Linked DNA regions of Homo sapiens. The protein of the gene in region 2 purifies or fractionates together with the protein of the main gene of each other region. This does not show direct contact. Each region holds a gene or a part of one and is shown on either strand. Other genes may lie near its edges. The genes, in order: INTS1, ST8SIA1 and RPIA.

Region 1 (3,838 bases), on a different chromosome or scaffold from region 2:
CTGAGCGTGGTGCTCATCCCAGGGCGCAGAGGCCGCCCCACCCTGTGCCGAAGCCGTCTGAACCCACCCCTGCAGCTCTCTGGCTCTCTGTCCCGTTCCACGCACATGTGGCTTCCCCGCCCGGCCCTCCCTCTGAGCGTCCTGGCCTCTCCTGCATGCCTGTGTCCACACGCTCCCATGCCACCCTAGTTTGACCCCTGACCCAGCCTTCCTCCTGCCAGCGTCTTCCTCCCAGGTGAAAGCATCTTCTCTCCCCAGCGACCTGTCCTTCGACAACAGTGACCTGGTGATGCTGAAATCCCTCCTTGCAGGGCTCAGCCTGCCCAGCAGGGACGACAGGACCGACCGAGGCCTGGACGAAGAGGGCGAGGGTGAGTGGGGCTGCCAGGGGCTGCTGGAAGCAGCTGCGGAACAGTCCTACAGGGCCTGGTTTTCCCAGCGCACAGCCAGCCCTGGGCCGTCCGAGGCGTCCCGATGGGGGCTGTGTGAGCCTGGGACCTTGCTGGCTGGCCCCTGACCCACCTCAAGGGGACGAAGCACTGACTGGTGCCTGACAGAGCATCAGCACACCTGCCCCCCGGCACATCGCCCCGCCCCGGCAAATGGCCCTCCCCACCCCCCCGTCCCTGGCACATCCACCATCCACCAGTGCTTGTCCGAGGTGTCCCTCCCCAGGAAGCCTCCCCTGGTCCTACTGGGCAAGGCTTGTCCTTGGTTTTTCCCTGCCTGAGGTGACACGGCACCGCAGCACGTCTCTCCTGTGCCGCCGGAAGAGCGCCAGGCCCGGGTCCCAAGGGGCCATCCCGTCTTGTGCCCAGTGGGTCCTGGCCCACATTGCGAGAAACCCAGCAGGGAGAGACTCGCAGAGGTGCATGCGCCGGATCCAAAGGCAGCTCCCGGCTCCTGGCTCCACCCCATTTGTGGAGCGCTGCTGTGTGCAGGCACCTTGGGAGCCTGGGCAGTGGCCGCCGTGCTCTCGGGAGGGCAGGTCCTGGTGCCTCAGTGTGGCACGTCCTGCCGCTCCCGCCCTCCTGCAGCACTGCCACTGTCTTCCAGAGGAGAGCTCAGCCGGCTCCTTGCCCCTGGTCAGCGTCTCCCTGTTCACCCCTCTGACCGCGGCCGAGATGGCCCCCTACATGAAACGGCTTTCCCGGGGCCAAACGGTGGAGGGTGAGTCAGGCCCTGCTTCACCCACGCCAGGTCAGCGCCCTGGGTCCCATGGGGCTGCGGGCAGCAGCCAGTAGCCATTTGGGCACTGACTTTGGCGTGAGCCTGGCCCACGCTGGGCTGTGGGTGGGTGGGCTGTTCCTCACAGTGGGGAGCACCCCCAGAGAGGGCCTTAGAAACTCAGGGGCCCAGGGGAGCTGGAGGTGGCTGCTCTGCTTCAGGCACAGCAAAAAGCAGGGGAGCCCCCTAAGGTGGTGGGGGTACAGCAGGAAGAGGTCAGGCGGGTGGGCAAGACCAGCGGGTGGGCAGTACCGGTGGCCGCTGTCAGAGGACAGCCAAGGCTGAGCGGCCCGGATGGAGTCGGGCCGTGGGGACACTTGGTGCTAAGAGCACCCTGGATATGGGGCTGCCGTGAGGGGTCAACCCCTCTCCTTGGAGGCCACTAGTAGGGGCAGGGCCGGGTATTTGTGGAGCTTGGGGGCAGGTGACTGCCTGGGGCGTCACTGGGCTCATGCTTTCCAGTGCTTTCTGTCCTGTGGTGCTCGGGGCCTTGCCCCCTCTGGGTGGCTGGGGTGGGGTGGGCAGAGGTCTGCCTGGGCCCTTCAGTTCTGGTCTGGCCCTCTCTCTGTGTCAGATCTGCTGGAGGTTCTGAGTGACATAGACGAGATGTCCCGGCGGAGACCCGAGATCCTGAGCTTCTTCTCGGTGAGCTGGATGGGGCTGAGGGAGAGCTGGGAGGAGCCACTCCCTTGGGGAACCCCAGCAGGGCCACCACCCCAACATGGCGTGCCCGCGCTGAGCCCCAGGGAGTCCTCTGAGGCTGGGCTTCGGGTGGGGGCCCCAGCCCAGGTGTTCACAGTCAAGCCGCCGCCAGAGCAGGCCTGCCTTCAGCCCCGGGCTGGGACCGGCCAGTGGCACGTGCGTCCTGCCTTCTGGATAGGGGCCTAGGGTCCCTGCCGTTGCCGCCAACCATCACGAGACCAAGAGGTGAAGGGGCCTTGATGGGGGCTGGACCCCTTGGTCACACACCTCCCACCTTTCCCCCGGTCAGACCAACCTGCAGCGGCTGATGAGCTCGGCCGAGGAGTGTTGCCGCAACCTCGCCTTCAGCCTGGCCCTGCGCTCCATGCAGAACAGCCCCAGGTGAGGCCACCGCCGGCCTCTGTCCCGCCGCCACCGCTGGGCCCTGCTAACCCAGGTCACCGCTTGACCCGCCTGGTGGCCAGACCAGGCTTCCAGGCGGCTCAGCTCGCCCTGTCGGGTGGGGGTCTGGCGTGGGCACAGGGTGGAGGTTCCCACTGAAGTGTGTGGGTCTTTCAGCATTGCAGCCGCTTTCCTGCCCACGTTCATGTACTGCCTGGGCAGCCAGGACTTTGAGGTGGTGCAGACGGCCCTCCGGAACCTGCCTGAGTACGCTCTCCTGTGCCAAGGTGAGGACTGGCCCCCCGCCCAGGGCCCTGGCAGCCCTCGGGGAGGCCGGAGGTGCGTCCCCCGAGGGCTGGCTCTTGGGAGTCCCGAGGTCTGGTCACTGCGGCCAGGATGTTGTGGCCAGCGTGACGTGCAGGGCCCCGTTTCCCCCACAGAGCACGCGGCTGTGCTGCTCCACCGGGCCTTCCTGGTGGGCATGTACGGCCAGATGGACCCCAGCGCGCAGATCTCCGAGGCCCTGAGGATCCTGCATATGGAGGCCGTGATGTGAGCCTGTGGCAGCCGACCCCCCTCCAAGCCCCGGCCCGTCCCGTCCCCGGGGATCCTCGAGGCAAAGCCCAGGAAGCGTGGGCGTTGCTGGTCTGTCCGAGGAGGTGAGGGCGCCGAGCCCTGAGGCCAGGCAGGCCCAGGAGCAATACTCCGAGCCCTGGGGTGGCTCCGGGCCGGCCGCTGGCATCAGGGGCCGTCCAGCAAGCCCTCATTCACCTTCTGGGCCACAGCCCTGCCGCGGAGCGGCGGATCCCCCCGGGCATGGCCTGGGCTGGTTTTGAATGAAACGACCTGAACTGTCTGTGTGCTCTCTGGTGTCCCATGTCGCCCTCTGGCCAGTGAGAGCCTCAAGGACCCTGGCCTTGGCTTCCCAGCCCCACAGTGCAGGGAGTTGAGCAGGGTCCGGGGTGGTGGAGACCAGGGCCAGGCTGGGCTCTCCCTTGGGCCAGCAGTTCCCGCAGGTGTTGAGGGTCGGGGGATGCTGCCCACTTGGCCGCCCCCGCCCCACGTCATGGTCTCCCTGTCGAGTGCCGGCCCTGGGCCCTGCCGGGCCTCAAGTCCTCTGCCCACGGGGTCGGCCTCTGTTGAGTGAGTCCGGCCTTGTCAGGCTGCGTGGGGGACTGGCCCAGCTGACTGGTCTCTCTCTCCTGCACTAAAAGGATCAACAAGGCCCTGAGAGCCTCAACTGTGGGCGTCCCTCTGTGGGAGCTGAGTTGGGGTCCCATTCCAGAAGAGTCCGAGTAGCCGGTGGTGCTGCTCGTCCTGCCTTTGCAGGCACCAGCTCCCAGGGGAGGGTCTGGGAGGGTCCTAGTGCATGCGGGGCGGAGCTTGGCATGGGGCCCTGTTTGCTGGCCCGCAGTGCACTCTCCTCCCTCCCAGCCAGGTTGGGGTTAGAGCCGCCCACCCCTCTGTCCTCGCTGCACCGGGGTCTTTCCAGCACACAGATGGGACCCGTGCTCTCCCGGTTCCCCAT
Region 2 (3,133 bases):
TGCTAAAGATCTTACAATGCACAAGTCAGCCTCTCACAGCAAAATAATTATCCAGGCTGAGATGTCAGTAGTATCAAGGTTGACATCTCAGACCTGGATTAGACCTGGATTAGACCAAAATGAAATTTTGATTGTTCCACCTTGTCTTCACTTAAAGATAGATATACATGCTCACAGCATTCAAAATATGACTACAATTTAATGAAAATATTTTCTTATGGTAGATTACAACTCACTAGATACACCATACATATGCCTTTTGGACATAATTGGTTAGATAGGAGTGTGTGTGTGTGTGTGTGTGTGTGTGTGTGTGTGTGTGTGTGTGTAGCATGAAGTTAGGCATCTCTATCCTTAACTGTGCTATGTGTTCCTAAGTAAGGACCTCGCTAGAATCATCCTGTAGAGTGCTCTGGAATACTCTATTATTAAGATCTTCAATTCTAAGCTCCCATTATCTTTCTTTGTTTATCTGAAATTAAGACCTTCAGAATTAGGCCTGGTACTTTTCCAGATTTGATCAGTTACATTTTGATATAACTGACTCTTAAAATTCAGCTTAGAAGACATTCAATAAGAAAATCTTTAATCACTTTTGGTGATGCACCTGCCAAGAGGGGGCATCACTTTGTACCATCAGACTAATTAAAAAAATTGTTGTGTAGTCATAAAAATTAGGCTGATCCATAGGGGCAAAAGGAAGGGTGAAGAGACTAAAAACTAGTACCCTGATAGAATTTTAGTTTTTATTAGCCTCGATTTGAGAACTGCATTGATTCCAAAGATCATGAAGGTAGGTGAAGGATTAAGTCATTCCATAATTAAGAAAAGTAATGTTTATATGAAAGATTTTTATATGGACAATGACTCACAGACACATATGCTTTGTATAGAGGATTTTGCCAAAAGTTTATACAAAATTGCACATCTAAACTGCATAATTCTCATACAAGAAGTTAAGGAAGTGCTCACTGGATTTTGCTTCTGTATAGTTCACTTTTATCTGTCTTCACAAGGGTAGGAAGTAAATGATCTCAAATGGCACATGTTCAGACAATACTGTGTTTGGCTTTGTGATGTCTCATGTCTTTCTCTTGGCTAAAAAAAATTGTTTAGGCTATATATAACTTGTACCTGAAGCAATCTGGACAACATGGCTTAAAATGGAAAATAACTGAAAAAATCCTGGGATTTTAAATTTGCCAAAAATACCCTTGGATTAGTCAAAGGCTTTACAAGAGTGTTATAGATGATCCAAAATGGAAACAATATTGATAACATTTCTTTTCGTCAGCAGCTACATATTCCAGTTTTATAACTTTATTATATACATTTTTTGATTATTAATAGAAAGTCAGCCATCCAGAGTTTTAACTTCTGTGGTTGAAATATTGACTTTGTGAAATTTTTCACTGACAAATACTTGTTAGGAGGGACCTAAGGGGGAGGGGAATGTTACCAGTCCACTGAAAACTTTAGGAAATGTTCATTGTGTTGTGTAAATACTTTCCCACCAGCACCAGGTAATATATTCTCTATGTTTGTAGAATTCCAAAGATCAAAAGCTGTAAGGACGTTTATGTGAACTTGACGCAAACTTGTGGAGGAATAAGGACTGAGAGTAATGTTGTGCTTTTTCTTTATCTTCCCGTCGTATAGGTCGACTCTCAGGTTATATGACTTTTATTGGGCACACGTCAGGGGTGGAAGTGGTAGAAGTGGGTTAACAATTTCAAGGCCTGGCAACCTAGGTCAAAACCTCTAATAAAGTCAGCAGTAAACATAACTAGCAACTTCATTCCACTATGTGCTAGGAGGAGGGTGAGGCAAGTTGAAAGGAGATGACCCTATCCCCACACTCTCAGGATGTAAAAGGGCAGAGTGCTCTCTACCCTTAACCTTGGCTTTTTAGCACCGTCAGTCTCTGTCCTCTCCCAGGAGAGCTGCCTTGGCTCCAGAGTTGAGCTAGTAGCATTGTGACTAGAGAGGTAGTGTGGAAATTCGCTGAGGACCTCAAAATTTTACACTGCCTTAAACTGTTTTGTTTTTGCTTAAACTCGTGCTGTCTAAATGTGGGTGTTTTGTGGCAGAGTCTGATCACCCCGACCTAGTTATAGCCCTGCCAGTGATTCTAAAGTGGAACTTTTCCCCCTCATTCATATGGATAGTCTGAGTCCTTGAAGCTAGGGAGATATCAAATATTCTACCAGTTCCTACATAGCTTCTTTAAAAGTCCTAGAGACTAACTCACAGGAAGTCTGAAGCCCAGAGCGTCTGTTTATAAACTCCTAAATATGAGGCCACAATATTTAGGTTGAGCACTAGAAAATTTCTATTTTGCAAGTGGAAGGAGACTTGAATCTATAATTGCTGTAGCTTTTTTTCCCTTCTATCATAAGAAAATGGATACCATCTGCTTTACCCTCAGCCCAGACTTGTCTTTTGAATTTTTTACATACATCTTAGGGGTGAGAGATTGAAACAAGTGCATGAATGAAAAGCTTATTGAAACATAACACAGCCCCTGCTCACCATTTCAGTAAGGGAAAATACATGTTTCTGTTTCCCTCTAATTTGTTTTCTCTGGTGCCAACATTTCTGATTTCTTCTGTCTCTAATACATAAGGAATAAATACCATATTTTAAATTGACTTACATGCCTGCGAGCATTTGCCAGATAATCAAAGCCTATGACTCTAACTTTTTAAAGCACAGAAGAGGAATTATATTTTATGGTCACTCCTCTGTGTTTCTATTGATCTCTATATTGTGCTAAAATTCTTTCAGGTAATTTTTTTCTTGTTGAAGCTGTGGGATATAATCAATGATGCCAAGCTGTCTGAGAATTTTATAGAATAATATCCAAATATATTGATCCTGCCTCTTTCTGCTTCTATGTAATTAAACTTTCTTTTGATGTTTATTTTTAAAATGTATGCTTCACACAACACCAATAAACATCTAAGAGATGTGATATAATCCAAGGCAAAGAAAAGTAAGAATCAGTTAATGTCTATTTTATCTGCACAGCATTACGAACAGAAAATTGTAATAAAAAAAGGTTTAACCAAACTGAAAAAAAGAGAGACAAAATCTTGGTTTTAATTTGAAAAGATGATTGGGAGTGATCTCA
Region 3 (3,500 bases), on a different chromosome or scaffold from region 2:
AGACGGGAACCACAGGAACAGCTCCATGTGGGCAAATGGACACTGCTCGGACTGGCTGGGGTGATAGGACAGAGTGAGTGTACTGCGTTGGTGCATAGTGGGGAGAGGGAAAGCAAAGCTGGATAGGAAAAGTGGGGTGGTTTTATGGCACCTGGAAAACCAGGCAGGTTGAGACTTGATGGTGATCTGGTAGCCCATGTTTCTGTCATACACATGGGCCTCACAGGGGTTAGTAAGAACTATGGGAAGGACTTGGGGATTTCTGTGGGCAGAGCCAGGGGCACAGGCTGATCATGTGTTCAGCAGCTGTGAAGAGAGTGGTTTGGGCTGAAGGTGGGCCTGGAGCCCAGACAGAAAAGGTTGCCACTTTCCATACCCCTGAGAATTGCCAGAGTGCAGCCTGGCTCTGGGGTTAATGCAGGCCTGGGGAGAGCAGTGCCTGCTGTAACTTCAGACAAAGGCTGGAATCTGTAAAAGGCTGGAAGCAAGCATGACCCATATGAAACTGTATTTTTTATACCTGTGCCATGCCAGCCATGCCAAGCAACTTAGTAACTGCACCATGAATAGAATTTGTACCCTGCATACTACTTGCTGTCTTTAAAAATATACTCGGGGTTCCTACAATGTCCATGCAGAGTACCATGAGTGATGAGAAATGTGTAACTTTCTTGATTTTGATTTTTAAAAGCTAGATGAACCCATTTGCCCCTCAACTGCTTTTGGGGCTTGTGGTGGAGCTTCCTAATAGAGGGAGCGGGCAAGCCCAGACAAGTGGGGTCTTAGTGGCAATGCCCCAGTAATTTCCAGTTCGGGAACTCATCAGCTTTCTTGTGTATCTCTTCATTTGATCCTCATGTCCACTTAAAATTGCCTGTGAGGTTGCTCACAGTTAGTACAGAGACTTCTGAATCAGTTTTTTTTTTTTGCATTTTTCCCACCCCCAGTGGAATTTAGTAGCACAGATATTACTGTATTGGCCCTTTGGTGGGACAAAACTCATTGTAATGTCTAAGATTTTTTATTCCCCCACCAAAAACTAATTTTTGCCTCTTGGGGGAGGTGATAGCACCCACACTGAGAACACGTGCTCTAAATAACGCCAGCTTGTCCACAGAGAAGCCCATCAATGAGAAAAGGGAACATAGTCTTGTGGGTAAGAACTGCATCCCGGTTAGAGTCCCAAGTCCTGTGCTGTTTCCCTTTGATCCTAGTGGAGCAGCTTAACCTCTTGTAGCTCAATTTCTTGATTTGCTAAATGGGAGTACTAGAATTAGCTAACAGGGCTGCTGAGTATCTGATGAGCTATCGCATGCTCAGGCAATTAGCAGAGGCTCCCCTCGAGTGGTTTTTGTATCTTTACCTTTCCCCCAATACAGATCGACCTTGCCATCGATGGTGCTGATGAAGTAGATGCTGATCTCAATCTCATCAAGGGTGGCGGGTGAGTGTTGTGGGGGCTTCTGTGCTAAAGAGTATCTGCCAGTTAATCCTTAGCAAAGCAAGATGGATACAGAATAAACAAATTGCCACTGTGACATATGCAAGTTTGTCTTTCTCCTAGGATATTGATAGCATATGGCCTTAGACCCAACTCAGCATTTCTGGTCATTAGCAGCAATTTACTGACAAGGAACCTGGGCCTCTTTAGTGAGATCATTCATCGTAATGGATTCTCTGTGGATTTGTGTTCTTTTGTTGATTCAGACTTTAAAAACTTAAGGCCAAATCAAAATAATACTGGGCTAGATTGTTAGGTCTGTGGGCACCAGTGTGTGACTTTTGCTTTAAAGCTGTGCTTACTTCTGTGAGCAGTTAGGGATATTATTTGTTCCTTTGGAAAACATTAATTGGGTATTTCTTAAGTGCTGATTTGGGGAGTGGTGGGAATGGTGAGTTGAAAAAGGTGAAATCCTGTTCTGCTGGTTCTTATAATCAAGCAGACTATTGAGTGATGCAGCATTTGTTTAAAATCACACTTTACTGTTTATTAGATTTTCTTACGTGTTACTTAATCCTGTCAACTGCAGATGTGAGATAGTTTAGCTGCTAAACCCTAGAGGTAGACCTGGACCCAAATCTGCTGATTCAGTGCTCTGGGCTCTCTCCACTTCATCACCCTCATTGGCAAGTAGTCGACTGGGCGGGTTGTTCAAAGCGTGCCCTCCTCAGCTTCTAGACCCTCCCATTCATGCCATGTCCAGATGACATCTCCCTGAACACAATGCTCCCTCTCAGACACATTTGGATGGAATTATGCCTGGCCTGAATGGGAACCTTGTCTGCTTTCTAGGTTTCTCCCAGACAGGGGTAATGTTTCTAGAGTCCATTTACTAGGAGCAGCATGATGGGACTGGGGATGTCCCTTTAAAAATTAAAAGTTAAGTTTCTCTTTAAGTGCCAGGATTGAGTGGATTTGGGATTCCTGTATTTAACCTTAGTTCCCAAACTGAGATTTTTGTCTTACTCCTGTGTTCCTTTGCTTCTTTCCTGCAGAGGCTGCCTGACCCAGGAGAAGATTGTGGCTGGCTATGCTAGTCGCTTCATCGTGATCGCTGATTTCAGGTACAGTTTCTGGTGTCTGAGCTGCCAACTGAGGAGGTAGATTGGATCCCCAAGCCGCATCCCCATTTTTGTGAAAGAGGAAATGGAGAGCTGCAGGGACTGTCTGACTTTCTGAGACTGATGGCTAGGACTTAGTACAGTGTCTAGGAGACCTTATGTTCTGCTTGTAGGCTGAAGGTAGATGTTGCTAATCACAGCACTGTTATCCGCAGCCAGGATCTCTAGCATCGTTTCATGTGTTCAGTGGAACGGGGAAACAGCTTGTCACCCTGTTAGCAGAGCATGCTCTCATGTGTCATGTCACTCACTGGATCCTCACAGGGAGCCTCAGAGGAGGCAGGGTGTGCCCTGCCCACGGGCAGTGACTCAGCATACCCTGCTTCTTCTCGGGTCAGGGTTTGCCGCAGGTGACTGGTGTCATTGATAGTCTTTGACCAGGCTCTCAGATGCTCCTTCAAGGAATGTAGTCAAAAGCACTTGTGCTGAGCATGTTAATTTCAAATATGTGTATGTGTATATTTACTTGTGAAATATAGCCACAGGACGAGCATAAATATTAAACACCTACATACCCACAAGCCAGCAATATCAGATTTTAACATTTTTGTCATATTTATTTCAAATAGCTCTTTTCCTATATAGTGAAACAGCTAATTCATTTGTAGCCCCATGTATATTGCCCTTGATCACTTTCCTTGCCTTCCCACCATCTCATTAACCCTGTTCCTGAATTTGGTGTTTGCCTGTACTGTTGAGCTTATTTACTTTTATTGTACTTTCTGACTCCTTCTTTCCAGGAAAGATTCGAAGAATCTCGGGGATCAGTGGCACAAGGGAATCCCCATCGAGGTCATCCCAATGGCCTATGTCCCAGTGAGCCGAGCTGTGAGCCAGAAGTTTGGGGGCGTGGTTGAACTTCGAATGGCTGTCAACAA

The links.
Region 1: the proteins of ST8SIA1 (region 2) and INTS1 purify together in Homo sapiens (affinity purification with mass spectrometry, with the first as the bait; one large-scale study listed by BioGRID). This does not show direct contact.
Region 3: the proteins of ST8SIA1 (region 2) and RPIA purify together in Homo sapiens (affinity purification with mass spectrometry; 2 studies listed by BioGRID and IntAct, with this or other methods). This does not show direct contact.

The regions. Positions count from the first base shown.
Region 1 is NC_000007.14:1,469,605-1,473,442, reverse strand, and holds the end of INTS1 (integrator complex subunit 1), read left to right. Parts: intron 1-258; coding exon 259-371; intron 372-1,056; coding exon 1,057-1,170; coding exon of another isoform or gene 1,171-1,200; intron 1,201-1,801; coding exon 1,802-1,872; intron 1,873-2,218; coding exon 2,219-2,310; intron 2,311-2,487; coding exon 2,488-2,597; intron 2,598-2,750; coding exon 2,751-2,866; 3' UTR 2,867-3,166; downstream 3,167-3,838. UniProt on the Homo sapiens protein: Component of the integrator complex, a multiprotein complex that terminates RNA polymerase II (Pol II) transcription in the promoter-proximal region of genes.
Region 2 is NC_000012.12:22,195,719-22,198,851, reverse strand, and holds part of ST8SIA1 (alpha-N-acetylneuraminide alpha-2,8-sialyltransferase), read left to right. Parts: 3' UTR 1-3,133. UniProt on the Homo sapiens protein: Catalyzes the addition of sialic acid in alpha 2,8-linkage to the sialic acid moiety of the ganglioside GM3 to form ganglioside GD3; gangliosides are a subfamily of complex glycosphingolipds that contain one or more residues of sialic acid.
Region 3 is NC_000002.12:88,733,173-88,736,672, forward strand, and holds part of RPIA (ribose-5-phosphate isomerase), read left to right. Parts: intron 1-1,379; coding exon 1,380-1,444; intron 1,445-2,030; coding exon of another isoform or gene 2,031-2,046; exon of another isoform or gene 2,047-2,127; intron 2,128-2,496; coding exon 2,497-2,565; intron 2,566-3,362; coding exon 3,363-3,500. UniProt on the Homo sapiens protein: Catalyzes the reversible conversion of ribose-5-phosphate to ribulose 5-phosphate and participates in the first step of the non-oxidative branch of the pentose phosphate pathway.